4 linked regions of the Homo sapiens genome follow. The protein of the gene in region 1 interacts with the protein of each later gene in a biochemical or structural test. Each region holds a gene or a part of one and is shown in the gene's direction. Other genes may lie near its edges.

Region 1 (7,297 bases):
TTTTGTTGAAAGCCAGGCATGATGTACTGAGTGAAAGAAACTCAATACATTGTAATGTGACGATAAGAGTTCAGGGGAAGTGAAGCATTCTATAGTCCTATAGCAGGTCTCGGCCTTTTAGTGAGCCTGTGCCTATGAACGGTGACTTTCAACAAGTGCTTTTCATTCCACTCTTTTCCTGTCCTTAAGTGGGACAAGATCACTGGGGGGGGGCTAGAATTGGGTATTTCCCTTCTCCAATGTAGAAGCTAAAGAGAGGGCTGGAGTTGGGTATTTTTCTTCCCCTGTATGGAAAGCTAGAGGCAGTTAAATTTGGATATTTTCCTTCTTCTAATTCAGTTAGGCTGCGACAAAAATCCCGACAGTTTAGGCTCTAATATTATAAAATAATTTCTCTTGAGTATAGGCCTTATTAAGAACACTATACTCTGATGGAGCTGAGGGGGAGTTTTCTCTGATATTCACTGCGAGAACCTCGTAGAGCTCCAGGAAGCAAAACTCACAAAAGTGTGGGAGTCTTCCAGAATTTTTCCTTTGCAGACTTATCTGCACTGAACCTCCAGAAATTCATCAATTACAGTTCAGGTTTTCCTACCCAGGTACTGGTTTTCATGGAGGTTTCTGCCTGTGCATTTCTGCTCCAGTAAGTTGTTCTTCTTGTATGGTCTGTCTTTCAAATTTTTTAAGTAGGGTTATGACCTGTCGCCTCACTTCTCTGACAGTTCTGAGAGTGTTGATTTTTCAGTTTGCTTAGATTTTTACTTGTTTTTAGGATGAAGTGACAATTTCCAAGCTCCTCCCTGACATGCCAGATCAGAAACTGAAAGTCCTAAGCCTCATATTCTGTGCGTGGGTATGTTCACATCCTGCCTGCTCCAGTGCCCCCACCTCACACTCTCTTTCCCTTCCTTGTCCCCTTGTGAGATTTCTAGGTCCAATACAAAGACTGTGTTCAACTCATTCAACTACTTTGGCTCATCTGAGTATTATAATGAACAATCACAAAAAAAAATGAAGTAAAAGAAAAATCCATCAAAGAATTGAGATATTTGAGAAAAAGAAAGGAGATCAGTGTTTTATAAAACTTAGAAATAGATTTTTTAAGTGTTTCTTCATTGACTTATGTGAAAGGACTTTTCTTAATTTAACAAATTATGTGCTTTCGTTTATAGCCTCAAAACTTCTTGTGTAGCTAAGAATGGGTAAATAATCAGGCTTTACTAAAGGACTAACGTAAAGATCTTCTGTAAGTAACATTTCTGCTACTCAAGGAAGAGATAAACTTCATGGCATAACCTTGCCAAAGTATACTAAGAATAACCCTGACACAAAGCTCTTTTTTCAGCCAACATGCCATGAAAGAAAGAAGACAAGGGGTGATCTCCACTCTCTAAGTGAACCACTAAACCCACCAAAGAAGAAACGAGGGAAATAGAAAGAGGACCCTTGCCTGAGATAATGGATCTGTATGTATGAGTAGTAGAACCCTGCTCAAAGTACAAGGAAGGGAAAAAAAAGTTAGTTTATTTGGAATTTTGGACATTAAGAGTCTTTATTGTTCATTTTCTTTTAACTCACATGAATGGCTTATCACTTCAATTAATAAATATTTCATTTCTTTTCAACATATTCATGAAACAAATCTGAAATGAACAGTGCAACATGTGAATGTTTAGAACATTATAAAATTAAACACAAAATCTGTCTGGCAATCTTCCTAGCATCTTAGGAAAAAAGTTGACAAAATTTCAAGCAGCAGAAGGGGGCAGTAAAACTCAACAGAAAGCTCTGGAAGATTTTTAAGATTCTTCCTTATTTTCTTTTCATGTAGATTATTTCCCAACAAATTTCAGACGCTAATAGAAATTTTGTACAACAGATCCATATATTTGCCTAAAATAGACACAGAAACATTGAATATATGCAAACATGAGAGCTATAAGTTTTACATGATCAAACCTTTTTTTTATGGTACACAATAGTCACAGTACTTTTCCATATAAAACAGGTTTAGTGGTCTTAATTTAGTTTGGCACATTTAATACACTCCCATGACCAGCATCCCAAATGTACCTATCCGTTTTATTTTATTGTCTCAGAATTGTCAGTTATTTAATAAATTATGTAACTTTTTTCCTTATGCTCAGATTTGCACTTCTTTCTAAAACTCTGCCCATCCTTAAAGTCCCAGATTCTCCTTGAACTTTTTTTTTTGACTTTCCAAGTACATGGAACTCTTCACTCTATCCTGCTATATAAGTGACAGAATTTCCACTATGGGATAGATGGAGTTCAATTCCTTTGAGTTTAAAATAATCTAAATATAATTATTCCTTATGCCCTGTTTTTCCCTCACTTTTGTATCCAAATCTCTTTTCAGACAACAGAACAATTAATGTCTGATAAGGAAGACAATGATGATGATCACTTCAAAATGAATTCAGGATTGTAATGTAAAATTTTAGTACTCTCTCACAGTATGGATTCTAACATGGCTTCTAACCCAAACTAACATTAGTAGCTCTAACTATAAACTTCAAATTTCAGTAGATGCAACCTACTCCTTTAAAATGAAACAGAAGATTGAAATTATTAAATTATCAAAAAGAAAATGATCCACGCTCTTAGTTGAAATTTCATGTAAGATTCCATGCAATAAATAGGAGTGCCATAAATGGAATGATGAAATATGACTAGAGGAGGAGAAAGGCTTCCTAGATGAGATGGAATTTTAGTCATCCGTGTCTCATGAAGAATCAGATGTGTACACTAAGCAAAACAGTTAAAAAAAAAACCTCCAAGTGAGTCTCTTATTTATTTTTTTCTTATAAGACTTCTACAAATTGAGGTACCTGGTGTAGTTTTATTTCAGGTTTTATGCTGTCATTTTCCTGTAATGCTAAGGACTTAGGACATAACTGAATTTTCTATTTTCCACTTCTTTTCTGGTGTGTGTGTATATATATATGTATATATACACACACACATATACATATATATATTTTTTAGTATCTCACCCTCACATGCTCCTCCCTGAGCACTACCCATGATAGATGTTAAACAAAAGCAAAGATGAAATTCCAACTGTCAAAATCTCCCTTCCATCTAATTAATTCCTCATCCAACTATGTTCCAAAACGAGAATAGAAAATTAGCCCCAATAAGCCCAGGCAACTGAAAAGTAAATGCTATGTTGTACTTTGATCCATGGTCACAACTCATAATCTTGGAAAAGTGGACAGAAAAGACAAAAGAGTGAACTTTAAAACTCGAATTTATTTTACCAGTATCTCCTATGAAGGGCTAGTAACCAAAATAATCCACGCATCAGGGAGAGAAATGCCTTAAGGCATACGTTTTGGACATTTAGCGTCCCTGCAAATTCTGGCCATCGCCGCTTCCTTTGTCCATCAGAAGGCAGGAAACTTTATATTGGTGACCCGTGGAGCTCACATTAACTATTTACAGGGTAACTGCTTAGGACCAGTATTATGAGGAGAATTTACCTTTCCCGCCTCTCTTTCCAAGAAACAAGGAGGGGGTGAAGGTACGGAGAACAGTATTTCTTCTGTTGAAAGCAACTTAGCTACAAAGATAAATTACAGCTATGTACACTGAAGGTAGCTATTTCATTCCACAAAATAAGAGTTTTTTAAAAAGCTATGTATGTATGTGCTGCATATAGAGCAGATATACAGCCTATTAAGCGTCGTCACTAAAACATAAAACATGTCAGCCTTTCTTAACCTTACTCGCCCCAGTCTGTCCCGACGTGACTTCCTCGACCCTCTAAAGACGTACAGACCAGACACGGCGGCGGCGGCGGGAGAGGGGATTCCCTGCGCCCCCGGACCTCAGGGCCGCTCAGATTCCTGGAGAGGAAGCCAAGTGTCCTTCTGCCCTCCCCCGGTATCCCATCCAAGGCGATCAGTCCAGAACTGGCTCTCGGAAGCGCTCGGGCAAAGACTGCGAAGAAGAAAAGACATCTGGCGGAAACCTGTGCGCCTGGGGCGGTGGAACTCGGGGAGGAGAGGGAGGGATCAGACAGGAGAGTGGGGACTACCCCCTCTGCTCCCAAATTGGGGCAGCTTCCTGGGTTTCCGATTTTCTCATTTCCGTGGGTAAAAAACCCTGCCCCCACCGGGCTTACGCAATTTTTTTAAGGGGAGAGGAGGGAAAAATTTGTGGGGGGTACGAAAAGGCGGAAAGAAACAGTCATTTCGTCACATGGGCTTGGTTTTCAGTCTTATAAAAAGGAAGGTTCTCTCGGTTAGCGACCAATTGTCATACGACTTGCAGTGAGCGTCAGGAGCACGTCCAGGAACTCCTCAGCAGCGCCTCCTTCAGCTCCACAGCCAGACGCCCTCAGACAGCAAAGCCTACCCCCGCGCCGCGCCCTGCCCGCCGCTGCGATGCTCGCCCGCGCCCTGCTGCTGTGCGCGGTCCTGGCGCTCAGCCATACAGGTGAGTACCTGGCGCCGCGCACCGGGGACTCCGGTTCCACGCACCCGGGCAGAGTTTCCGCTCTGACCTCCTGGGTCTATCCCAGTACTCCGACTTCTCTCCGAATAGAGAAGCTACGTGACTTGGGAAAGAGCTTGGACCGCTAGAGTTCGAAAGAACTCCGTGGATATTCCAGCTTTCCCACAAGCACTGATCATTATGAGCCAGTTACTTAACCGATCTGAGACACTCTCACCTCCTAAATAGGGATAGATGATACTAATTTGCAGGTTGTCATTATGATAAGACAGGATCTGATCAATATATGTGAATTGTTTATATTTGGAACCTTTTTATTGAGTGGAAGAAGTTGTTTTAAATATTCTAGTCAGTTCTTTCCTGCTCCCAGGAAAGCCCGGATTATGTTTTAAGATAAGCAAAATGTCTTAAAAGTAAGCTGTTTTACTTTGAATTTTTCCCTAAATGTTGATTAGTGTACTAGATCCATTTTAATTTGGAAAGTGAAGTGCTACTTATTTGAACTTCTTAAAAATGCTAATTTTAACATCTAAAGAGTTAACTAAGAAAAGCTTAGTAACATGATGTACCAAGTTGAATATGCTGTTATCCTTATTTAGAATAGAAAATTGGTATTTCTACGTTTTATCCATTCTAAGGCAGGTTAAAAAATTGTATTTCCATGACTACCTATATATTTCTTGAATTTATTATTGTAAAGTTGATTCATAGTCAAACAATTAAATGTTTAAATTAAGATTAAGACACTAGAGAATGATTTATTTGCTGTCCTTTAATTGCAGCAAATCCTTGCTGTTCCCACCCATGTCAAAACCGAGGTGTATGTATGAGTGTGGGATTTGACCAGTATAAGTGCGATTGTACCCGGACAGGATTCTATGGAGAAAACTGCTCAACACGTAAGTTTGTCCTTTGGTTGCCTCATTAGGAGTGGGGCTGGATACAGTTATCATTGTATAGATTTGTGTCTTATAATGAGTCCCATTAATTTCTCCCTCCCTTTCTTCGTCTTCTTGCAGCGGAATTTTTGACAAGAATAAAATTATTTCTGAAACCCACTCCAAACACAGTGCACTACATACTTACCCACTTCAAGGGATTTTGGAACGTTGTGAATAACATTCCCTTCCTTCGAAATGCAATTATGAGTTATGTGTTGACATGTAAGTACAAGTGTCTTTCTAAGGTTTTTAGCCTTCTCAAAGAAAAATATGCTTTATAATACTGTAAGCCTAATCTAAAAACATATTTCCAAGCTTATCAAAAAGACTTTAAGATAGCTTTTAAGTTTGCCTTCCATCTTAATCGCCAAAAATATTGACATTTAGTCCCATCCAGTTTATACAGTCTGCTCACAACTCTGTATACCTCTTCTAACCTTTACTGTTTGGTCAGTTTGTGGAGGTAGCATGGTCCAGCTGTTTATTGAATGCCCATGGGCCACAGAATTGTTCTGAACATGTAGCACCCATTAAAATAAATTTGGATTTGGATCAGCAAGAAAATAACTTTCCATGATTCTAAAGTGGGTGCCATACTCAGCCATTCCTTTCATAGGCCTCTTGGATAGTGAGCAGATGGCTACCTGAAAAATCAATATTGCCAGATTATAATGTGCAGAGTATATGTATTTTATTAAAGATGTATTTCAAGTGGCCATTAGACTATAAAGTGTAGTTGTTTAAAAATAGATTTTTTTTATTTTGGAGTTACATTCAACCTCAGGTGCCACTTTCCACATTTTACAATAAAAATAATGGTTGATTTACTTAACAAATGAGAATAAATAAAACATTTTTTTCTTTGAAAATTTCAGCCAGATCACATTTGATTGACAGTCCACCAACTTACAATGCTGACTATGGCTACAAAAGCTGGGAAGCCTTCTCTAACCTCTCCTATTATACTAGAGCCCTTCCTCCTGTGCCTGATGATTGCCCGACTCCCTTGGGTGTCAAAGGTGAGTAAGAAGAATCCATTAGAGATGTATTAACTATAAGACGGGCTGCATTGCTGCCAAAAAAAAAAATTGACCTTAGACTACCATTTATTTATTAACAAAAGCAGTTTTTACTTTTAGCATGGTTATCTATGGGTATTTTTTAAAGTATGAGTCTATATAAACTATTATGTAAAAGCAAATGAGCGTCTTGGTATAATGTCTTAATATTTTCAAATTATTTCTTTAGAAATGAAATAATTCTAATTAAAATAGATAAAATCATTCAGTAAGAAGTTGTTCCACCATATCTTAGAACTGTTGTTTATATTATGATCCTATTCACAATTGTAATTCTCATATAAATGAAGAATTCTTGGTAGATTGACAGTCACCATCTCCTTTCTTGAATACATAGATGGATTCTTACCTTAGCTTTCTCATTTTTCAGGTAAAAAGCAGCTTCCTGATTCAAATGAGATTGTGGAAAAATTGCTTCTAAGAAGAAAGTTCATCCCTGATCCCCAGGGCTCAAACATGATGTTTGCATTCTTTGCCCAGCACTTCACGCATCAGTTTTTCAAGACAGATCATAAGCGAGGGCCAGCTTTCACCAACGGGCTGGGCCATGGGGTAAGATAGAGTTAATATCTTAGAGTTAGTAAAATTATACCAAATCATAGTCAAGGGCTAACATTAAAGGAGATATACAGATAGATAGATCCAAATAACTTATCCACTTTTTTTAAAAAGAAGTCTTATCTATAAAAACCTTAAAGGAATTTTCCATTTACTTCACTGGTCTAGTAAAATTATACACACACACAGACATGCACACACATATATAAACATTCACACACATACATATGTACAGGT
Region 2 (7,263 bases), on another chromosome or scaffold:
TTTTTTTTTTTTAAGACACCGTCTCACTGTATCACCAAGGCTGGAGTGCAGTGGCGCGATCTTGGCTCACTGCAACCTCCACCTCCCAGATTTAAGTGATCCTCCTGCCTCAGCCTCCCAAGTAGCTACAATGACAGGCATGCACCACCACGCCTGGCTAATTTTTGTATTTTTAGTAGAAATGGGGTTTCACCATGTTGGCCATGCTGGTCTTGAACTCCTGACCTTCAGTGATCCACCCACCTTGGCCTCCCAAGGTGCTGGGATTACAGGCATAGGCCACCTGGCTTTCTTTTTTGAGACAGAGTCTTGCTCTGTCGCCCAGGTTGGAGTGCAGTGGTGCAATCTTGGCTCACTGCAACCTCCACCTCCCGGGTTCAAGCGATTTTCTGAGTAGCTGGGACTACAATGGTGCCATCACATCCAGCTAATTTTTTGTATTTTTAGTAGAGACGGGGTTTCGCCATGTTAGCCAGGATAGTCTTGATCTCCTGACCTTGTGATCCGCCCGCCTCGGCCTCCCAAAGTGCTGGGATTACAGGCGTGAGCCACCATGCCCGGCCTTTTTTTTTTTAAATTAAAAAAAAAAAAATTCTCCTCTCCCATCCTCCTGGGATTCTTGAAGCAAGAAATTGTTGTAATCATCTCAATTGCCAGCAACTATCAGATCAATAACTGCTAATGTTTCTTGAGCCCTTATTAACAACAGGCACTTGCTAAGAGTTTTGTATGGATTATCTCATTTATTCCTTGCCATACACTTCAACGTAAGCACAGAGCTGATATTCTCCCAATTTTAACAGATAAGTGAACAGGCTGAGAAATTTAGGCAATCCGCCCAAGGTTACACAGATAGTAGGTGGCAGAGCCTGACTGTAATTTAGCAATCTGACTTGATTCTTGGATACATGAATAAATGCATATACTGAACATGTGGGCCACTGTTTTCTACATGTTGTAGAACAGTGTGTTCCCTCGTACCATGACACTTTGTCATTTCTTTTTAAGTTTTAGTGATTTTTAAATACAAAGGAATATATTAATTTTCATTGTAAGAAAACATTCAAACATTACAGATTAAGTCACATCTACCTTTTCCTTTCCAGAAGTTACTGTTATTGATGGGTGTGTTTCTTTCTTCCAGGCCTTCCATTATTTTCCTACAAACGTCAGCATATTTTCTGTAATTTTCTGCAATTTGTTGTATTCATTTATGTTTTATGACTTTTTGTACTAGTACTTACAGATCTAGTTTTTTTTTTCTCTGTTGCCCAGGCTGGAATCACTGGCATGATCAGGGCTCATTGCAGCCTCGACCTCCTATGCTCAAACAATCCTCCCGCCTCAGCCTGCTGGGTAGCTGGGACTATAGGCGTGCACCACCACAACTGGCTTTTTTTTTTTTTTTTTAATTTCTTTGTAGAGATAGGGTTTCATCACATTGCCCAAGCTGGACTTCATTCTTTTTAATAGCTGTGTACTATTCCCTAGAATGGCTAGTCCATCATTTATTCAATGATTCTCCTATTAATCGTCATTAACGTTTCCATTTGTTTCCCATTAGAAAAAAAGCACTTCATCCATACATCTTTTGGGGACTGCTTCTCAAGAGTATATTCTGTAGTTTAAATTTTTTAAAATCACTAAGGTTGTTCTGATTATGGAACATTTAAATCATTATAATTGATTCAAGTGGACAGCACAGATATTCTTCTGTGCTTAGATGATCGTATTGATAAAAAAAAAGATAATAAATATTAGGGCCTGAATGCTAAGTGCACATTTGTGAAGCCAAATCATATTTGTATAAGCCCAACAATATGAGAAAACTCCTTACATCAATATTTATAGAGATGGATCACATATTTTTGTAATTCCTGACTTACTAGTTAGGATTTTAGTTTTTTGTAAGCTGACATTCTTTCCTCTAACATAAACATGGTTTTCCTTAACAAGTGTTTTATTCTAGAAATGGTCTCGTTAGATTTTTCTGTAAATGTGTTTCGGGTTAATTAATTCGGCAGGGTTTTGTTTTGTTTAGAGATGGGGTCTTGCTTTGTTGCCCAGGCTAGAGTGTAGTGGCACAATCACAGCTCACTGCAGCCTTGACCTCCTGGGCTCTGCGATCCTCTTGCCGTAGCCTCTGGAGTAGCTGGGACTACTATAGGGCTTCACCGGGTAATTCCGAGTACCTGCATGTAGCCAATACAGTTCTGGGAACTTGCGGCTGTAGTAGTACATAAAACACACAATATCATTACCCTCTTGGAGGCCAGGCGCAGTGGCTCACGCCTATAAGCCCAGCACTGTGGGAGGCCGAGGCTGGTGGACCACTTGCTGTCAGAAGTTCAAAACCAGCCTGACGAAACCCCATTTCTAGTAAAAGTTCCAGATCAACATGGTGAAAGCCCCTCTCTACTAAAAATACAAAAATTAGCGGCGTGGTGGCAGGCGCCTGTAATATCAGCTACTGGGGAGGCTGAGGCAGGAGAATCGCTTGAATCTGGGAGGCGGAGGTTTCAGTGAGCCGAAATTGCACCACTGTACTCCAGCCTTGGGCAACAGAGCGAGACTCTGTCTCAAAAATAAAAAATAAAAAAAAAAGATTACCCTCTCGTAATTTTTCATGCTATTAAGGGAAGAGACAATAAAAAAAATAAGTAAATATTCATTACGCCAGATAGTGATAAATTCTTTGGAGAAAAACAAAGCAGGGTAAGGGAATGGAGAATTTTGGGGGGCTTGCAATTTTCATTAGGGTGGCAATTTTCCTTTTCACGGAAAAGGAGGTGTGTGATAAAGCTGGAAGGAGGTGAGCGAGCATCAGACATGGAATATAAGGATGCAGAGGGTGAGGGGGTAGGGAAAGCATTTTAGGGAGAGGGTACTGCAAGCACGAAGGCCATGAGGCAAAAACCTGTGCTCGGCAATTTGTCTTGGCCACAAAAGCTTTATCCCAGTCGTCAGTCCATTAAACCCTGTAGCTTTAAGTGTTGTGAGATCACAATCTTTATTTTTTAACTTGTGATGGTTCTGGACGGCAATTGCTGTTTCCTGCAATCTGTGGATGAATGAATGAGCAAAGCAGTTAGCAGCGGGATGAGTACAGGGGAGCAGCTCCACACCTGACACCTTATCCAAGTTCCCCCAGACCCTTGGCGCCCTGGTTCCCCCAGAACTTCGTTTGCATTCGTCTTTAAATGTCTTCTCAGTTTGCCTTGGGTCAGTTATTTGTATACCGATTAGACCTGTGCCGCCCACTGCGGTAGCAGCTAGTAGGAATTGGATGTGCTTTAAGTGTAAATACCAGATTTCCAAGACTTGCTGCAAAAACTGTAAAACATTCCACTAACGATTTTGCAATACTGCCTACATGCTGAAATAATTTGACTTTATTGGGTTGAGATATATTACTGTAACTTTCTTTTTTCATTAGAAAAATGTAGCCACTAGCAAATGTGAAGTGTCAGGCGTGTGGCGCGCAGATGCCTCTTTAAACTGGATGGCGCCGGGTTGGCCCTCACTATCAGCGGGCTCCCGACAGGAGGCGCCCCAGCTTGCGGCCGGGGGCAGCGCCTACCAGGCAGTTGGCAGGCAGTTCCAGCCCCGGGCCACGGCACTGCAGGGCCCGAGCCAGGTTACGGCAACCGGGGGCCCTGCAAACAGCTCCCGATTAGGGGGTGCTTTTGGGTGGGAAAGCGCAGGCCCTGGATGGAGGCCCGACCTGCGGCGCTCCAGCTCATCGCCCCGCCTCTTTGCGGCAGAGCTCAGGCCGGCGCAAACCGGTTCAGTGCTAGGACTGACGTCTCGCGCCGCCCAACCGCAGCACGCCCCCGCCTCCCCAGTCCTCTGGAAGAGACAGGGAACGTCTAGCCGCCAGGGTCCCGGGAGGCGGCTCTGTACCAGACGGACTATACTGAGAGCCTATGACAATAGCCGAAGGTGCCGGGGGGGGGGGGGGGGTGGCCTACTACCAATAAAGGAAGGGGAGGGGCGGGCCCTCGTTAGCTTCCCCCCCCTACCACGCTTCCTCGGGCGCGGGTCTACCCAGAGCCTAACGGGCGCGCGAGTGTGGGGGAAGGGCCTGGCGCGGGCTGGAGACTGCGCAGTGCGGTGCCGGCCGGGAGGGGGGGGGGGGGTGACGTAATCTCCGTCCGCGGCCGCGGCGCCCCGCCCCGCGACACCCTCCGCGAACCGCGAGAGCGCAGCGCAGGCGGTCCGCAGCAGCCGCAGCTCGGGGGCGGTGCCTGCCTTGCAGCCTCCCCTCGGCGATCGCGCAGCCCCATCTTTGTCCGGCCTCCGCGCTTTGTTCTCGGCGCCCGGGCCTTGGCCAGCCTGGCCAGCCGCCGAGCAGCCCCCACGCCGCGCTGGCGTCGTCCTCGCCTCCCTCGCCGCCGCCCCCCGCGCGCGGCCGGGCCTTGCCCCCCATGGTGTCCCGGCCAGAGCCCGAGGGCGAGGCCATGGACGCCGAGCTGGCGGTAGCGCCGCCGGGCTGCTCGCACCTGGGCAGCTTCAAGGTGGACAACTGGAAGCAGAACCTGCGGGCCATCTACCAGTGCTTCGTGTGGAGCGGCACGGCTGAGGCCCGCAAGCGCAAGGTGCGCCCGGCAGCCCACCGCGCGGCGGGCTCGGGGCCTTCTGCCGCTCCTGAGGCCGGCCGGCGGAGGGGCCCTTTTCCTGCCCTCTTCCCTTCCCCCGTTGCCTTTCCCTGTCCTTCCTCTTCCTCTCTCCTTCTGCCCTCTCTTCTCTTTACCCCTTCCCCCTCCTTTCCTTCCCCCCTCAACTCTCTCCCTTCCCTTATCTCCTCATCTTCCTATCCTTCCCCTCTCCCCCCTTCCCCCATTCTTCCTTTCCCTCCCCCTCCTCTCTGTCCCCTCCCCCTCCTCTCTGTCCCCTCCCCCTCCTTTCTCTCCGCCCTCCCCCTCCCTTATCCTTCTTGGCCCGGGAGGGGCGAGTGCTTCCGGGCCGGGGGTGGTGTTCTCCTGCCCTGCTGCCTGGGGAGCCTGGGACTTCGGTGGGCGGTCCCGGGCGTTCCTGCGCGAGGTCCTTGCGGGGAACTCTCCTGGTTCTGGAGGGTTCGGGGCTGGATGCGGGTGCAGAGAAAGAAATATTTCAAAAAAATGAGTAAAGGATGGGGGGCTGTCGAGTTCTGGGCGTTGGTCTGCAGCGGTCACCCGCCGCCAGGAGCGACCTTGGACGGGAGCTGGGGCAGGAGGCGGGCTGGGGGGCGCGGGGCCGGAGCTTCGCGGCTGCCTCGGGGCCCGCGAGGAGCTGGAGGTGGAGGGCGGCAGGGGCTGGGGCCGGGGCGAGCCTGTGGGTGCGGAGCCACAGCCCGGGTTTGCGTTGCGGCTGAGGAGTAGACTTGGAAGCGCGCCGTGGGCTGTGGGAGGCCTTAACCAGGAGTGAGTCCCCTCGGGGAGCCCAGTCTTGCGTCCCGCAGTTAGGCTTGGTAAGGGTTTGGAAATCAAAACGTAACGTGATTCTTCTATGTGAATAAAGTTTATTTTTACAGTTTCACGCGCTTTTGTAGATTACAATCCGAGATTGGGAGTTGTGAGGGCAGTTTCCACCTTGAGTGGCATTTTTTTATTTATGGGAATACCAACAGGCTCGCTGAGATTGTAGGGTATGTTAAGCAGTAATTCAAAAAAAAAATTATTTTTTTGAGACGAAGTCTCGCTTTGTACCCCAGGCTGGAGTGCAGTGGCGCGATTTCGGCTCACTACAATCTCCGCCTCCCGGGTTCAGCCGATTCTCCTGCCTCAGCCTCCTGAGTAGCTGGGATTACAGGCTCCTGCTACCACGCCCGGCTAATTTTTGTATTTTTAGTAGAGACGGGGTTTCACCATGTTGGCCAGGCTGGTCTGGAACTCCTGATCTCAGGTGATCCACCCGCCTCTGCCTCCCAAAGTGTTGGGATTACAGGCATGAGCCACCGTGCCCGGCCTCAAAATTTTTTTTATCTGTAATGGTATCAGGTAGCGTTATGTCTGGATGAACTAAAATCAGACATAAAACGTTTCAGGATCGGAGTTAGAGTCTTGCTAGTAGAATTGTGTGTCTTTAAGAAAAGATGGCCTGGCTTGGCGCGGTGGCTGACGCCTGTAATCCCAGCACGTGGGGAGGCCGAGGGGGGCAGATCACGAGGTCAGGAGTTCGAGACCAGCCTGGCCAACATGGTGAAACCTCATCTCTACTAAAAATACGAAAAGTAGCCGGGTGTGATGGCGGGCGCCTGTAATCCCAGCTACTCCAGAGGTTGAGGCAGGAGAATCACTTCAACCCGGGAGGCGGAGGTTGCAGTGAGCAGTGATCGCGCCACTGTACTCCAGACTGGGTGACAGAGCAAGACCCCCTCCGGAAAAAAAAAAAAAAGGGTGGCCTGGTTGAAGCCAGTCTTCTACAGGGAATGTGCTGTTGCTACTCTGGGTCAGTAGTGTCCGGATTGGGACGTGACGCGCCCAAGATTTGTTACTACTTTGGATGAAGTGGGGACCGCCCCACTCTTCCTCTCCCTCCTTTTCTTTTTCCGTTCCCTCCCTCCCTCTCCCTTTCTTCCCCCCTCTGGTATTTTTTAACCAAATAGAAGGAGTCAAGTTTAAACCATCATTAACTAACTTTGCCTAATTTCCTAAAGTTAAGAATTACTTTTTTTTTTTGCGCTACTTATGGCTCTGATTAATCTTTTAATTTCAGATGTCAGTTGCTTAGTTTCAAAACTGTTGAGCCACATGTATGTTATTCACCAATTAGAAGTTGAACTGTAGTCGGGTAGTGAAAAATATTTCTTTCAAAATTTAGGTGGGGGCTGCTGCAGTGCCAGTTGGCAGTGTGCCAGCAAGGAGCCCTTAAGCCCTCCATGCTTTTTCCTCTGACTGGGGGGACTTATTTACCTGTATCACTTCATGTGCGGTGTCCTGCATTTCTAGCACTCTCTAGTGGCCCAGTTAAGGAAGAGTTGGTTTGGGAAATAGTTTAACAAACCTGATGATTAACAGTTGGACAATCTGCATAGGATTTCCATCAGATCTGTAAGCTTAGGACATTTTGTTTTTTAAATTTTATTTTATTAAAAATTATTTTTTGTAGAGACAGAGTCTTGCTCTGTTACCCAGGATGGAGTGCAATGGTCTGGTCAGTGATCACTGCAGCCTCAGATTCCTGGACTCCAGCCTCTCCTGAGTAGCTGGGACTACGGGCGTGTGTCACCACGACCGGCTAATATTTGTAGAGACAGTGTCTCACTATATTGCACAGGCTGGT
Region 3 (7,779 bases), on another chromosome or scaffold:
ACGATCTACAAATTCCGGTCCTCAACCAAAATCCACCCCGTCACTGGGCTCCCAAATATCACCCCCGCCAGGCGCCGTGGCTCACGCCTGTAATCCCAGCACTTTGGGAGGCCGAGGCAGGCGGATCACCTGAGGTCGGGAGTTCGAGACCAGCCTGACCAACATGGAGAAACACCGTCTCTACTAAAAACACAAAATTAGCCGGGCTTGGTGGCGCATGCCTGTAATCACAGCTACTCGGGAGGCTGAGGCAGGAGAATCGCTTGAACCCGGGAGACGGAGGTTGCGGTGAGCCGATATCCTGCCATTGTACTCCAGCTTTGGCAACAAGAGCTAAACTCCGTCTCAAAAAAGAAAAAAAAATCACCCTGTTTCGCGGACCGCCCAAACCTTGAGACCCAGGTCCCAAACTGCATCCTAAGCCTCAAACAAGCACAGCCCTGCCGCTGGATTGTTGCGGGCTCCGCACGTAAAGAATCTCGCGCCAGGCTCTCGTAATGAGACCGCGCCCCGCCCCGGACCCCTAGACCCCGTCTCCGCAATCCCGGGTTTGGGGTGGGGGTCCCGGCTTTCCCAGGCTCCACCACCGAGCTCTGCCAAGCCCAATCATCACATTCTCTTGCCCCTTTCCCCTGCTAGTTGTACCATGCCCCGCCCCTGCGCTCTGTAGCCCTGCCCCGAACCCCTCCCTCACAGGTCCTGCCGCGGGGGGCCCCCACAAGCCTCTCCCCTGGGCGCCCACAGGCCCTGTTCTAAAGCTCTCCTGGGCCAAGGCCCGCCCCCATCCACTGCCAAGTCCCCACCCTAAGGCTCCACCCCTTCATCCACTAGGCCCCGCCCACAGACTCCCACAGGCCCCTCCCCTCCAGGCGAACGCCCCCAGGGGTCTTTGGTCACCTCTGTCACCTAAAAGGCGCTCCTCCCGCAGACAAGAGCGCCAAAGCCACGGGGAAGCGTCAGGATTGGCCTGAACCATGAGGAGCTCCTGGCGCTTCTGTCGCTGCTTCTTTTCAAACAGCCGCCGCTGGGGAGATGGGAGAGGTGGGTGTCCGGGACAGGAACCAGATGGGAAGACAGAAGTGAGGTGGGGCCTGGGGCAAGGGCTCGCATCGGCGCGAGAGTTCGTGAACCCCTTCCTCCACTGGGGCCCACACGTCCAGGCCCTCAGTTCTTCAGCAGCTCCTCCCTTATTCCACCGTTGGACTCAGATCCAAGAGTCCTGACACCCTGTCCTCTCATCCCCCAGGACCCAGGAGTCCTGCCTTCTAGAAGCCTTGTTCCTTAGAAATTCATCACAAGGGTTTGTTTGCTTCTTTAGAACCCCCAATTCCTATTTTCTTTTCTTTTTCCTTTCTTACTTTTTTTTTTTCTTTTTGAGACAGAGTCTGGCTCTATCGCCCAGGCTGGAGTGCAGTACCACGATCTCCGCTCACTGCAGCCTCCGCCTCCCGGATTCAAACGATTCTCCTGCCTCAGCCTCCCGAGTAGCTGGGATTACAGGCGCCTGCCACCACACCTGGCTAATTTTTTGTGTGTTAGTAGAGACGGGGTTTCGCCGTGTTGGCCAGGCTTGTCTTGAACTCCTGACCTCAAGTGATCCGCCCACCTCAGCATCCCAAAGTGCTGTGATTACAGCCGTGAGCTGCCCTGCCCGGCCCCAAATTCCTATTTTCTCATTTCTCAGTGGGAAAACTCAAGGATGAGAGACAGCCAACACGGGCTGGGAGTCCTAGAGCAAGACCTGGTGGAGAGGCCCCTGGGGAGGCACAGAAGGCGGAAGAGTTGGAGTGGTGAGATTCCTGGGCACAATACCTGCTGTTCCAGCTTCTGCAGCCTCATAGCAGCGAGCTCATGCCCCAGGATGCTGAGAGAGACACAGGCCCATGGTGACAGTGCACAGGGAACCTCGGTTGCCCAAGAGAGTCCCTCCTTCCCCCATCCTGCCCCTATCTCAGCTTGGGTTCTGGGCACCTGTGAGGTCACAGGAGGTGCAGAACCTGAGCCTGCTCCACCAGTTATAGGGCCCTTTCTCCTGGCACTGGCCCACAGAAGCCGGGACCCAGAGATCCCAGGTCCCTCCTGTCTCAGGATTCAGGAGTCTGGGGCCCCCAACCCCTTCTCTTTCAGACCCAGAAGTCTGCACCCTAGCCCCATCCCTTCAGGACACAGGAGTCCAGGTCCCCAGCCCCTTCCTGCAAGGCCGATGGTGCTGAACCTGCAAACATGGTTATGAAGCCAGAGCCGAGTGCACGGGGTCCCCAGCCCTTTCCACCTCCACCCCTACCCATCTGTTTCCCTACTCACTCTCTCATCAATGTGTCATTATCCTGAGACATTCTGCAGAAGCAAGAATGAGGAGTCAGGATCAGAACCAACATCCCAATGGATCCTGCCCACCAGCACCTAATCTTTAGCCTTATTTATTTATTTATTTATTTATTTATTTATGTATTTAGAGACAGCTGAGCCTCGCTCTGTCGCCCAGGCTGCAGTGCAGTGGCGCCATCTCGGCCACTGCAACCTCCACCTCCTGGGTTCAAGCGATTCTCCTGCCTCAGCCTCCCGAGTAGCTGGGACTACAGGCGTCCGCTATTCTGCCTAATTTTTTTGTATTTTAGTAGATACCGGTTTTCACTATGTTGGCCAGGCTGGTGCCGGACTCCTGACCTCAGGTGATCTGCCCGCCTTGGCCTTCCAAAGTGCTAGGATTACAGGCATGAGCCACAGTGCCCGGCCTGATCCTTACCTTTAAATTTGCTTCCGGACCCAGGCAGCCCGAATCCCAGCACCCACTCCTGTCGGGATCTAGTAGCCTGTTTCCAGCTTCCCACGGGGGTCCGCAAGTCCGCTTCTCTCTCCCCCAAATATCTAATTCTCCAGCACCCAGGCATCAGAACTCAGGACTGTGCACTTCAAACACCCAGCCCCCAGCGGCCTAGAACTCCACTGCCCACCTGCCTGGGATCCGGGAGACTTGTTCTCCTCACCAGGTGCCTGGAGAGGCTGCTCACATTGATGCCTCGGTACCTTGCCTCTCTGGCCAATCTCTAAACATACCTGATCCTCTCTTTGGAAGCTGGGGACCTAATCTCGGGATATCTGCGAAATAGGGAGGAGAAGAAAGACGGCTCAGAGGGAGGGAGGATTCCCTCTGGGACCTGAACTGGTCCACTCCCTTCTGACCCTCCACTCTCCACTTCCAACAAAGTAACGAACTCGGTCACTGATGCAGCCAGGCAACCCTGCTCCGGGGGTTCTGAACACGAATGCCGTGTGGGGGTTCCTTAAAGAGACCAGAGACCGGCCCGGCGCGGTGGCTCACGCCTGTAATCCCAGCACTTTGGGAGGCCGAGGCGGGCGGATCACGGGGTCAGGAGATCTAGACCATCCTGGCTAACATGGTGAATCCCCGTCTCTACTAAAAAAAAATATATATATATACACAAAAAAATTAGCCGGGCGTTGTGGCGGGCGGGCGCCTGTAGTCCCAGCTACTCGGGAGGCTGAGGCAGGAGAATGGCGTGAACCCGGGAGGCGGAGCTCGCAGTGAGCTGAGATCGCGCCACTGCACTCCAGCCTGTGTGACAGAGGTAGACACCGTCTCAAAAAAAAAAAAAAAAAGAGAGAGAGAGAGCGGGAGACCAGAGACCTCGCGGCCTCACTGTACACATCTCGCTTACAAGAAACTTAAAAGAGGCGGGGCGCAGTGGCTCACGCCTGTAATCCCAGCACTTTGGGAGGCGGAGACGGGGAGGCAAGATTGCTTGAGTCCAGGAGATCCAGATCCAGACCAGCAACACAGAGATTTTTTTTTTTTTTTGAGACGTAGTCTCACTCTGTCGCCCAGGCTGGAGTGCAGTGGCGCGATCTCGGCTCACTGCAACCTCCGCCTCCCGGGTTTAAGAGATTGTCCTGCCTCAGCTTCCTGAGTAGCTGGGATTACAGGCATGCGCAACCACGCCTGGCTAATTTGTATTTTTAGTGGAGGCGAGGTTTCTCCATGTTGGCCAGGCTGGTCTCAAACCCTTGACCTCAGGTGATCTGCCTGCCTCAGCCTCCCAAAGTGCTGGGATTACAGGAGTGAACCCCCAAGCCCGGCTTGACATCCGTCTCTTTAAAAAACAACAACAACAAAGTGTGAGAAGTGTGAAAGACAGAACGTTAAAAAAAAAAAAAGGCTAAAAAAGAATTAAAGATTTAAATATTTGTATTAAAAATTTAAAAAATATACATTAGCCAGGCATGGTAGTGTGGCCTGTGGTCCCATCTACTTGGGAGGCTGACGCGGGAGGATTGCTTGGGCCTGGGAGGTAGAGGCTGCAGTGAGAAGTGATTGCGCCACTGCACTCCAACCTGGGTGACAGAGCAAACCCTGTCTCGAATAATAAGAAGAAGAAGAAAGAAACTCATAAGAAAGGCTATGCAATTGCTACCGCGCTATAACTTCCAGGCACTTCGTGGGGCGAAAATAAATGGGAAAACTACAGCTCCCATGAGGCGAAGGGGCCACGATGCCCGCGGAAGTTATTTTTCCCCCGGCCGGCAGGGAGTTGTAGTTATCTTTGAAAGCCTTCTCTCTCTTTTGGCATAGGCGGGAAATGTGGCGTCAAGAGGCTGGGATTCCGAGAAAGAAGCGAGGCTTTCACGAAAATGCGAGCGGCTTCGGCAAGGGGCGGGGCCGCTGGACGTGGATGAAAGCTACAGAGCCAGCGTGGACCAATCAGACCTCTTTGGGGCGGGGCCTCTGTGGATAAGTGGGCGTGGTCTAGGGGGGAAGTCACCAAGAACGCACCGGAGGTCCTTGCCCGCCCTGGAAAACGCCCTCTGCGGTGAAGGAGAGGTGAGAGGCCAGGGTTCCCATACTCTTGGGTCCTAGGGAGGATGGGGGCCAGAGGGCTGGAAAACTGGGTCCCGGAGGAGGATGCACTGGGTGCCAGTACTTTAGGTCCTGGGAAAAGAGGAGGCTGGGACCCTGGACTCTTGGGTCTGGGGGAGGAGGCGGCCGAGATCCCGGATTCCTGAGTGTGAGAGAGGAGCGTGTTGGGAGCCAGGACCCCTGGGTCTGAGGGCCCAGACTCCTGTGTCGGAGGAAGGGAAGGCCGGAGGCCTGGAATCCTGGGGCCTGGGTAACAAAATGCTTGTGTCTTGATTCTTGGAAGTGGGGGCGGCGCTGGGGGCCCGAACTCCTGGTTCCAGGGGAGGAAGAGGCTTGGGACAGACATTATGCATTATCCAGCCCTCCATCCCCCACAGACCACACTGCCATGCCTCCCTCTGGGCCCCGAGGAACCCTCCTTCTGTTGCCGCTGCTGCTGCTGCTCCTGCTTCGCGCCGTGCTGGCTGTCCCCCTGGAGCGAGGGGCGCCCAACAAGGAGGAGACCCCTGCGACTGAGAGTCCCGTGAGTGGCCCTGCCCTGCTATCCAGCCAGGTGTTTGCAGTGGTACTACAGCTCCTGCAGACCCCGGTGCCCGTAGGGCGGATGCTCCAGTGACTTCCTGGCCCTACAGTTGTAGCTTGTTTTTTGCCCACCATTCCTCCCAGCAGCAGGGGTTTGACTTGGTGAAAAACTGGAGGTCCCTGACTCTGAGGTGTGGAAAATCTGCATCACGCCCCAACTAAACGTCTGTTTTTTTAAGATTCTCTCCACCCAAGAAGGAATTTGAAAACAAACAAACAAAACTACATTTCCCAGTAGCACCATGTTGCTAGTTCCCAGTAGCAGTTGATGTTGGCTAGCTGGGGTATTCTGACTTCATGGTGCTCTTGGGAGTTGTAGTTTAAATTACAGAAGGGCGGGTGAACTGCTTGTTTATTAATTCCTACATGTGTTTATCAAACCCAATAAAAGCTTTGGTCTTAAGGGATTTGGAACTTTGGAGATCCTGAAGGTCAGTGAGTGTCTTGTGGTCCGAATCTTCCTATAGCTCCCCATAAGGATAGGCTGGTCAGGCCAGGCGCAGTGGCTCATGCCTGTAATCCTAGCACTTTGGGAGGCCGAGACAGGCGGATCACTTGAGGTCAGGAGTTCAAGACCAGCCTGGCCAACATGGCAAAACCCCATCTCTACCAAAAATGCAGAAATTAGCTGGGCGTGGTGGCTCACGCCTATAATCCCAGCTACTCTGGGAGGCTGAGGCACGAATTCTCGTGCTGGAACCAAGAGAGGTGGAGGTTGCAGTGAGCCAAGGTCACGCCATTGCACTCCAGCCTGGGCAACAGAGCTGAGACTCTGTTTTCTGAGACTGTCTCAAAAAACAAAGAATGGGCTAGTCATTACCCCCTGGAACGGATCATTGCATGTTCCTGGTCCCCACGCTGCAAGTTAGGCCTCTATTCTGTGAAATCCTTGCAGACCCAGGAAGGCTTTGTTGAGTCCCATTTCTTTTCTTCCATTCCACATGTTTCCTGAGCACCTTCTATGAGCCGGGCATAGTGTTGCCTATGTGTTGCATAGTTGTTAGGGCCCAGCCATGTGCATGCCCCATGCCCATGGACTATCCCTGCTCACTGGGAGATGGAAGACAAAGGGCAGGGCTCTATGAGAGTGAACACCAGGGGTGACAGTCAGGGAGGAAGGGAGGCGTGAGTTGAGTTCTTTCTTTCTTTCTCGCTCTGTCACCAGGCTGGAGTGCAGTGGTGCAATCTTGGCTCACTGCAACCTCTGCCTCCCAGGTTCAGGTGATTCTCCTGCCTCAGCCTCCCGAGTAGCTGGGACTACAGGCGCACACCACCACGCCCATCTAATTTTTGTATTTTTAGTAGAGACGGAGTTTCACCATGTTGGCCAGGATGGTCTCGATCTCTTGACCTCTTGATCTGCCTGCCTCGGCCTCCCAAAGTGGTGGGATTACAGGCATGAGCCACCTCATTTTTTCTTTTCCTTTTTCTTTTTTTTTTTTTTTTTTATTTTTGCTGTGTCACCCAAGCTGGAGTGCAGTGGTGCAATCACTGCAATCTCCATCTCCCAGACTCAAGCGATCCTCCTGCCTCAGCCTCTGGAGTAGCTGGGACTGCAGGCATGTGCCACCATGCCTAGCTAATTTTTTTTGTATTTTTGATAGAGACAGGGTGTCATTATACTGCCCAGGCTAGTCTCGAACTCCTGAGTTCAAGTGATTTGCCCGCCTCGGCCTCCCAAAGTGCTGGGATAATAGGTGTGAGCCACTGAGTTCTGAACTGGAGAGATATGTTAAGTCAAGAGCAAGGAAGAGAGGAAGTGAGGGGAAGAGCATTCCAGGCAGAGGGAACAGCATGAGCAAAGGCCACTTGGTAGGAGAAAGCAGAGCAAGTTGAGGACGTCAAGGAGGCTGCTGTGGCTGGAGCAGGGAGAGTGAGAGGGAGGGGAGAGGGGGATTATGTGGATCATGTGGGATCTTGTGAGACTAGGTAAAGAGGTAAAGAATGTATATATATATATATATGTTTAATAGACAGGGTCTTGTGCTGGTGCCCAGGCTGAAGCGCAGTGGCAGGATCATACCTCACTGCAGCCTTGAACTCCTGGGCTCAAGTGATCCTCCTACCTCAGCCTCCCAAAGCACTGGGATTACAGGCATGAGCTACCATGCCTGGCCTTCTCTCTTTTGTAATTTTATTTATTTATTTTTTCCAACTTATCTTATTTGCTTTTCACCACAACTCTGGGAGGCAGAGGATATATTGCCTATTTTATAAATAGTAAGAGCATAGAAGGCCCAGGGAGAGTAAAGTCCCACCCAGCTACGCATGACGGGGGTGGGACTAGGAGGCCTGGGACTTTTGTCTGTGTTGTTCACAGT
Region 4 (7,713 bases), on another chromosome or scaffold:
ACTCCTGAGTTCAAAAGAGCCACCCTCCTCGGCCTCCCAAAGTGCTGGGATTATTTGCGTGAGCCACTGTGCCTGTCTTATGATGTCATTCTTGACTTTCTTTTCTTCTCATACCTCACATCTAATCAATTTGCAAATTCTGTTCACTTTAAGTTAAGTACAGAAACCAGGTCAGGTACTGTGGCTCATGCCTGTAATCCAGCACTTTGGGAGGCTGAGGCAGGTGGATCACCTGAGGTCAAGAGTTTGAGAACAGCCTGGGCAACATAGTGAAACCCCGTCTCTACTAAAAATACGAAAATTAGCCAGATGTGGTGGCACACACCTGTAGTCTCAGCTATTTGGGAGGCTGAGGCAGGAGAATCACTTGAACCCGTGAAGCAGAGGTTGCAGTGAGCTGAGATGGCACCACTGCGCTCCAGCTTGGGAGACAGAACGAGACTCCATCTCAAAAATAAATAAATATACGTACATACATACATACATACATAATCCAGCTATTTCTCTCTGCATCCGCCACTGATATCATGGTCTAAGTTATCACCGTCTCTTGCCTGCATCATTGCTGTGGCCTTCTAATTGGTCTAATTGGTTCTGCCCGTGTAGCCATTTTAATATGTTAAACGTGTGGGTCAGATGGTGTCACTCCTCTGCTCAAATCCTCCACTGGCCGTCCATCTCACTCTAAGCAAGAGCCAAAGTCCCTACAGTCGCCCATAAGACATGATCTGGACACCCTGCTCTCGCTCTACCTTGCCTCCTCTCCCCTTTCTCAATCAGGTCCAGCCACAAGGCCTCCTTGGTGCTCTTCAGACACATCTAGTATGTCCCCATCACGGGGCCTTTGCACTGGTAGTTTGCTCTGCTTGTGAAATTCCCATACAAATCCATCCAACTGGCTCCTTATCACCTTGTCAGGGAGGCCCTCCTAAGGACCTTAAATAACAAATGTCTCCTGCATTCCCCATCCCCCTTACCTTGTTTTTGTTTTTCTTCATATTTATCACCTTGTAATTATTTAAGGCCTGAATTCTACCACAAGAATACAAGTAGCAAGAAGGCAGGGATTTTGTCTACCTCTCCAGGAGCTAGAACAATAATATCTTTTGACTCAATGATAAATATTTTCTTACATGTTTGACTCTTTGGATGTCAGTCAGCTTTTCTAGCTTTATTTCAGTGCATCTTTTCTATAATTAGCATGAAAAACAGCACCTGGCACATACCCTTGTATATAACTGCCACTTAGTAACGAATGAATGAATGTTACCTCCAGGACTTTGCTTATATTTACTTAGTTCCCATCCTCTTCTTGGGACACCTTTATTTTTCTTCCCACTTTCTCCTCTTCTTTTCCCATTTCTACTCCTTTTTCTTATCTTTCTCACATTTCCTCCTGCTCCTCCTCTTCTCTCTCTAATCCTACTTCTTTAGTCCATTTCCTCTCCTGTCTTTCTCCAAACTCTCTTTTATCTCCTTACTCATTGTTCTCTCATATTCTCCTCTCACTCCTTTTTCTCCTATAGAACCATAAGACATCAGAACCCAAATTGGCCTTAACATCTAATCTCTCTTGGCGGATATGGAAGAGGAGATACCACAAAATGGCTTGATTTGCTTTAAGGTCACAGCTGGTTTAAGACCAAATCAGGAGTAAATCTCAGGTTATCTCTTTCTTTGTGCTCTCTTCTCTGTCGCTCTTTCCTTTCTGCTTTTTTCCTGCTTCTCTTTCTTTTTTTAAATGTTATTTATTTATTTATTTTTGAGACAGAATCTTGCTCTGTCACCCAGGCTGGAGTGCAATGGCACAATCTTGGCTCACTGCAACCTCTGCCTCCTGGATTCAAGAGATACTCCTGTTTCAGCCTTCCGAGGAGCTGGGATTACAGGCATGCGCCACCACACCCGGCTAATTTTTGTATTTTTGGTAGAGATGAGATTTTATCATGTTGGCCAGGCTGGTCTCAAACTCCTGATCTCAAGACCTCAAGTGAGCCACCTGCCTTGACCTCCCAAAGTGCTGGGATTACAAGCATGAGCCACTCTGTCTGGCTCATTTCTTTCTTTCTTTCTTTTTTTTTTTTTTTTTTTGAGACGGAGTCTTGCTCCGTTGCCCAGGCGGAAGTGCAGAGACAGGATCTTGGCTCACTGCAACCTCTGTCCCCTTCTCCTTCCTCAGGGTTCAAGCAATTCTCCTGCCTTAGCCTCCTGAGTAGCTCGGATTACAGGGGTCTGCCACCACGCTCTGCTAATTATTATTTTTTTAGTAGAGATGAGGTTTCACCATGTCGGCCAGTCTGGTCTCGAACTCCTGGCCTCAAGCGATCCGCCTACCTTAGCCTCCCAAAGTGCTGGGATTACAGTCCTGAGCCACCACGCCCAGCTCGCTTATCTTTCTCAATACAGTGTTGGAATCAGACAAACTTGCATTTAGATCTCAGTTTCATCACAGACCGGTAACCTTCAACAAACTATTTAACTTCTGTATTCCTAAGTGTCCTCACAGGTGAATTGAGACACTAATATGCACCTCATAGGGTTGCAAAGATCGAATAAAAATTTGAACAATCGGCCGGGTGCGGCGGCTCGCGCCTGTAATCCCAGCACTTTGGGAGACAGAGGCCGGTGGATCACGAGATCAGGAGATCGAGACCATCCTGGCTAGCATGGTGAAACCACAGCTCTACTAAAAATACAAAAATTAGCCGGGCATGGTGGCGCGTCCCTGTAATCCCAGCTACTTGGGAGGCTGAGGCAGGAGAACCGCTTGAACCTGGGAGGTGGAGGTTGCAATGAGCCGAGATTGTGCCGCTGCACTCCAGCCTGGGCCATAGAGCAAGACTGTCTCAAAAAAAAATAAATAAGATAAAAATTTGAACAATCGAGGCTGCAGTGAGCTGTGATCGCATCACTGCACGCCACCCTGGGCAACAGAGTGAAACCATGCCTCTAAAAAAAAAAAAAAAAAAAAAAAAAAAAAAGTAAAAAATGAACAAATAAAGCACTTGGCGCAAAATAGAACAAATACGGGTTATTTTCTCATCCCTTCATCTTACATGTTTTTCCCTTCTCTCTAAAAATGATAAGCTTGGCCGGGCGCAGTGGTTTACGCCTGTAATCCCAGCACTTTGGGAGTCTGAGGCGGGCGGATCACGAGGTCAGGAGATCGAGACCATCCTGGCTAACACGGTGAAACCCCGTCTCTACTAAAAATACAAAAATTAGCCGGGCGTAGTGGCGGGCGCCTGTAGTCCCAGCTATTCGGGAGGCTGAGGCCAGAGAATGGCGTGAACCCGGGAGGCGAAGCTTGCAGTGAGCCGAGATCGCGCCACTGCACTCCAGCCTGGGCGACAGAGCGAGACTCCGTCTCAAATTAAAAAAAAAAAAAAAAGATAAGCTTGGGGCGGGGAGGGGTGGATGCAAAATAATAATAATAATGTTTGGACTCATTAATTCCTTGCTTCCTTCAAACTCTGAATATTTTATTATGCCTTTGATTCCTTCTACTCACTTTTGTTTCACCTTTTCCATTCATTTCTTCTTCTCCTCTTCCTCCTTTCTCTTTCCTTTCTGTGTTTCTGCTTATTTTCTATCACAAACCAAAATATGCGGACCATAAACTGCATCTGCAGTTCCTTTAGCCCTAACAGACTACGAGTCCTATTTCTCTTTATCTTTCTCTTTTTCACTTTCTTGTCTTTCCATTACTTACAAGTTTCTTAATTTTCCTGAGTTCAGTTTTTCCATCTGGAAAGTGGAGATAACAATTACTAGATCGTTGTATCAGATGAATTAAGTAATGCTCATGGCTTAACACAAAGGCCAAGATGTCATTAACTTTACCCTCACTTGACCTTCTGCAAGCCTGTTGTGAAATATAAAACACTATAGAAATGTTAGTTGTTTTTGTTTTTATTAAAGTATCATATTGAAGTAGAAAGATGGTTTTGAGTTTGAAAAGCTCCAGATAAATCCTTGGATTTTTATGAGCCTCAATTTCCTTTTCTGTAAAATGAGAACCACATAGGGTTTTTTCCTCCCCAAGAAATTAAGAGTCCATGTACTGAAAGCATCATTCTACAAGTATTAATACATATGTAGTAATCATGGTAGAGGGTGTCCTGAAGTCACAGGGGAATATTTGTGAGGATTCAACGGAATAAAATTTTAAAAGATGTCTGACCAATAGTAAGCACTCAATACATGTTAGCTTTATTCTCTCTTTTATTTTTCTCGCTTCTTTTCTCCTGCTCTTCAAAAAAGTGAGTGGTTGAACCACCTAGGTGATCTCTGCTGCTAAACTTCTATTATTGATTTTTGTTTGCTTCCTCTCTGCCCCTTGTTTCCTCATCCCGTTTTTTTCCCTCTTCTTCACTCCTTCCGTTACAGCTTTTCTCTTGCCTCAGGTACCCAGTGCAGTCCTGATCTCCAGCTCTCCAGCGGCTTAGAACAGACACAGAATGGGCCGGGACCAGGGACCCACCAGAGACGTCTGTAGTTAATAGCTGGCGCTCTTCCACTAATAAAGTTTTATTGAAATAAAGCATTTAAAAAGGCGCCCGTCATTCTTCCCCCAGCGACCAATCGAAGAGTAGAATGCCTGCGTCCCTCACTGGAGCTTCAGCGGTCGGAACGCGGGGGTGGGGCATGTCCTGCCGAAATTTGCGTCCTTAGAGCGGAAGTACGGCCGGAAGCCCGCCATAGAGTTTAGTGGCCAGAGCGACTCTTCAGGGAGGTGGCAGGAAAGGCTTGGAACAGCTGCCGGAGGTGACGGAGCGGCGGCCCCGCCCGGTGCGCTGGAGGTCGAAGCTTCCAGGTAGCGGCCCGCAGAGCCTGACCCAGGGTACGACGAAGCAGTCGGCGGGAGCCCACGGTCGCTGGGCGGTGTCTTTAAGGGAGGGGGCGGAGCCACGTGTAAGCTTCAATGGGGGTGAGGTCACGTGGTTGTGGGCGCGTGCGGGGCAGCAATGGAGAGCTGAGGGAGCGTCGTCAGGGTGGACACCATGCGACACCCATTTCTCCTTTGCATCCTGTGTCTTGGGGTTCAATGGGGTGCACGTGATGGGGCTTGGGGTTAGGCCCAGGGGAGGGGGTGGGTGTGGCAGCCTTGCGAAGTGGCTGACTTTAGGATTCCTAGATCAGAATTTTAGACCGCTCCATGTCTGATTCCTCACCGCAGAACCGACTTAGTGCCTTTACAATCCAGTCCCTCAGCCTTGTGCTTCCCATCCGACCAGCCATCGGGGACCTCTAGCTTCACATCCTCTTTCCTTGCAGCTCTGGACATCCTGAGCCCAAGTCCCCCACACTCAGTGCAGTGATGAGTGCGGAAGTGAAGGTGACAGGGCAGAACCAGGAGCAATTTCTGCTCCTAGCCAAGTCGGCCAAGGGGGCAGCGCTGGCCACACTCATCCATCAGGTGCTGGAGGCCCCTGGTGTCTACGTGTTTGGAGAACTGCTGGACATGCCCAATGTTAGAGAGGTGGGTTGCTGGCTTGAATAGCCCTCAGAGAAGCGTGGGCAAAGGTTTGAATTTGAGAATGGGTGGGCAGGGCTCATTTTGTGATCCAATAACCATTCAGTTGAACAAGAAAACAGTGATAATTAAATGCCAACTTGCAGAAGTAACCAGTGAACAAGCAAACCAGCTCTCCTTTGGAGATAAGGGATCTGTAAAGCCCACTATTTTTCATTTTAAGCAAAAGAGCATCCTATTCAGAATAGGAAACCTGATTTCCAGCCGGTCTCCACCAGTGTAGTAGCTGTTAATTCTCATGTCACCTTGATCAGGTCACTTTTGTTTTAGGGCTTCAGCTTTCTCTTTTTTTTTTTTTTTTTGAGACGGAGTCTTGCTCTGTCACCCAGGCTGGAGTGCAGTGGCGTGATCTCAGCTGAGTGCAAGCTCTGCCTCCTGGGTTCACGCCATTCTCCTGCCTCAGCCTCCTCAGTAGCTGGGACTACAGGCGCCCGCCACCATGCCCGGCTAACTTTTTTGTATTTTTAGTAGAGATGGGATTTCACTGTGTTAGCCAGGATGATCTCGATCTCCTGACCTCGTGATCCGCCCGCCTTGACCTCCCAAGGTGCTGGGATTACAGGCTTGAGCCACCGCACCTAGCCAACTTTCTCTTTTAAAAATGGAGACAATACTGCCCCTCTCTGTTGTGGGAATAAAGTGAGATTATGGGAAAGTGTGAAGTCTGGTACAAGTGGAGAGTGAACATGTTAAATTAGCATGCCCTTTTCTTCCCTATGTGCAGCATATGCTAATCTATTCAAGTTAGCTAAGGGAGAACGTGTCTTTTTCCCAGAGACACATGGCAAACTGCTAGGAACACAGCAGAGAGAACCGTTCACACAAAAGTGGCAGAGTTAATTTACAATCAGAGGAGGCAGCCTGAGTCCTGACATGCTGACAGTGGTATGTGGGTAAACTGAGCTAAGTTATTTGGGGCCTGTGGTTTAACCTTTTGGATCACTCTGTGATATGGAGAAAACTGGCTGACTTTTCCCTGCTTTCATCTGCAGTGGAACTAAAGAGTATCAATCAAAGTGATGAAAAAGAAGCACTTGGCTGGGTGCGGTGGCTCATGCCTGTAATCCCAGCACTTTGGAAGGCCAAGGCAGGTGGATCACCTGAGGGCAGGAGGTGAAACCGATATGGCAGAATCCTGTCTCTGTTAAAAATACAAACAGGGCTGGGCACGGTGGCTCATGCCTGTAATCCCAGCACTTTGGGAGGCTGAGGTGGGCGGATCATGAGGTCAGGAGATGGAGACCATCCTGGCTAACATGGTGAAACCCCGTCTCTACTAAAAATACAAAAAATTAGCCGGGTGTGGTGGCGGGCGCCTGTAGTCCCAGCTGCTTGGAAGGGTGAGGCTGAGGTTGCAGTGAGTTGAGTTCGAGCCACTGCATTCCAGTCTGGGCGACAGAGCGAGACTCCATCTCAAAAAACAAGACAAAAACGAAAAACAGGGCCAGTCATGGTGGCTCATGCCTCTCATGCCTGTTCTCAGCACTTTGGGAGGCCGAGGTGGGTGGATCATGAGGTCAGGAGTTCAAGACCAGCCTGGCCAAGATGGCAAAACCCCGTCTCTGCTAAAAATACAAAAATTAGCCGGGCGCGGTGGCAGGCGCCTGTAATCCCAGCTACTCGGGAGGCTGAGGCAGGAGAATCACTTGAACCTGGGAGGCAGGAGGTTGCAGTGAGCCGAGATTGCACCACTGCATTCCAGCCTGGGCAACAGAGTGAGACTCTGTCTCAAAAAAAAAAATAAATAAATAAATAAAACAAACAAAAGCTCATGTATCCCAGAACTTAAAGTATAATTTAAAAAAAAAAAAAAGGGAGGCGGAGGTTGCAGTGAGCCGAGGTCGCGCCACTGCACTCCAGCCTGGGTGACAGTGTGAGACACCATCTCAAAGAAAAAGAAAAAGAAGCACTTATTAAGTGGCTCTTTACTACCCTTCTTATGGTCTGGGAATACAAGAAAAGCACCAGGCATGGAGCTTACCCTTCTGAAGCTTGCATTCCAGTTGAAGAGAGAAGATGAATGGATAGAAATCTGAATTATTTATTTATTTAGCAAGTATTTCTTGCGAGGCAATTACTGCATAGCTCTGTGGGATACCTGAGACTGGGTCTATAATCTTGTTGAAAGATATTCTTAGGTAGCAACCTTCTGCAAGGATTGATTGATTAAGTGCCAG

Evidence for each region.
Region 2: the proteins of PTGS2 (region 1) and USP22 form a complex in vitro, tested with the Homo sapiens proteins (one study listed by BioGRID).
Region 3: the proteins of PTGS2 (region 1) and NUCB1 form a complex in vitro, tested with the Homo sapiens proteins (one study listed by BioGRID).
Region 4: the proteins of PTGS2 (region 1) and COPS7A form a complex in vitro, tested with the Homo sapiens proteins (one study listed by BioGRID).

What each region holds. Positions count from the first base shown.
Region 1 is NC_000001.11:186,677,406-186,684,702, reverse strand, and holds the start of PTGS2 (prostaglandin G/H synthase 2 precursor), read left to right. Parts: upstream 1-4,279; 5' UTR 4,280-4,412; coding exon 4,413-4,464; intron 4,465-5,264; coding exon 5,265-5,381; intron 5,382-5,501; coding exon 5,502-5,645; intron 5,646-6,298; coding exon 6,299-6,442; intron 6,443-6,872; coding exon 6,873-7,054; intron 7,055-7,297. UniProt on the Homo sapiens protein: Dual cyclooxygenase and peroxidase in the biosynthesis pathway of prostanoids, a class of C20 oxylipins mainly derived from arachidonate ((5Z,8Z,11Z,14Z)-eicosatetraenoate, AA, C20:4(n-6)), with a particular role in the inflammatory response.
Region 2 is NC_000017.11:21,040,000-21,047,262, reverse strand, and holds the start of USP22 (ubiquitin carboxyl-terminal hydrolase 22), read left to right. Parts: upstream 1-4,251; 5' UTR 4,252-4,427; coding exon 4,428-4,598; intron 4,599-7,263. UniProt on the Homo sapiens protein: Deubiquitinase that plays a role in several cellular processes including transcriptional regulation, cell cycle progression or innate immunity.
Region 3 is NC_000019.10:48,895,533-48,903,311, forward strand, and holds the start of NUCB1 (nucleobindin-1 precursor), read left to right. Parts: upstream 1-4,779; 5' UTR 4,780-4,840; exon of another isoform or gene 4,841-5,126; intron 5,127-5,253; 5' UTR 5,254-5,264; coding exon 5,265-5,399; intron 5,400-7,779. Other genes in the region: TULP2 (tubby-related protein 2), read right to left, coding at 898-1,024, 1,813-1,864, 2,305-2,336. UniProt on the Homo sapiens protein: Major calcium-binding protein of the Golgi which may have a role in calcium homeostasis. Acts as a non-receptor guanine nucleotide exchange factor which binds to and activates alpha subunits of guanine nucleotide-binding proteins (G proteins).
Region 4 is NC_000012.12:6,719,337-6,727,049, forward strand, and holds the start of COPS7A (COP9 signalosome complex subunit 7a), read left to right. Parts: upstream 1-4,709; 5' UTR 4,710-4,843; exon of another isoform or gene 4,844-4,914; intron 4,915-4,950; exon of another isoform or gene 4,951-5,277; 5' UTR 5,278-5,320; coding exon 5,321-5,482; intron 5,483-7,713.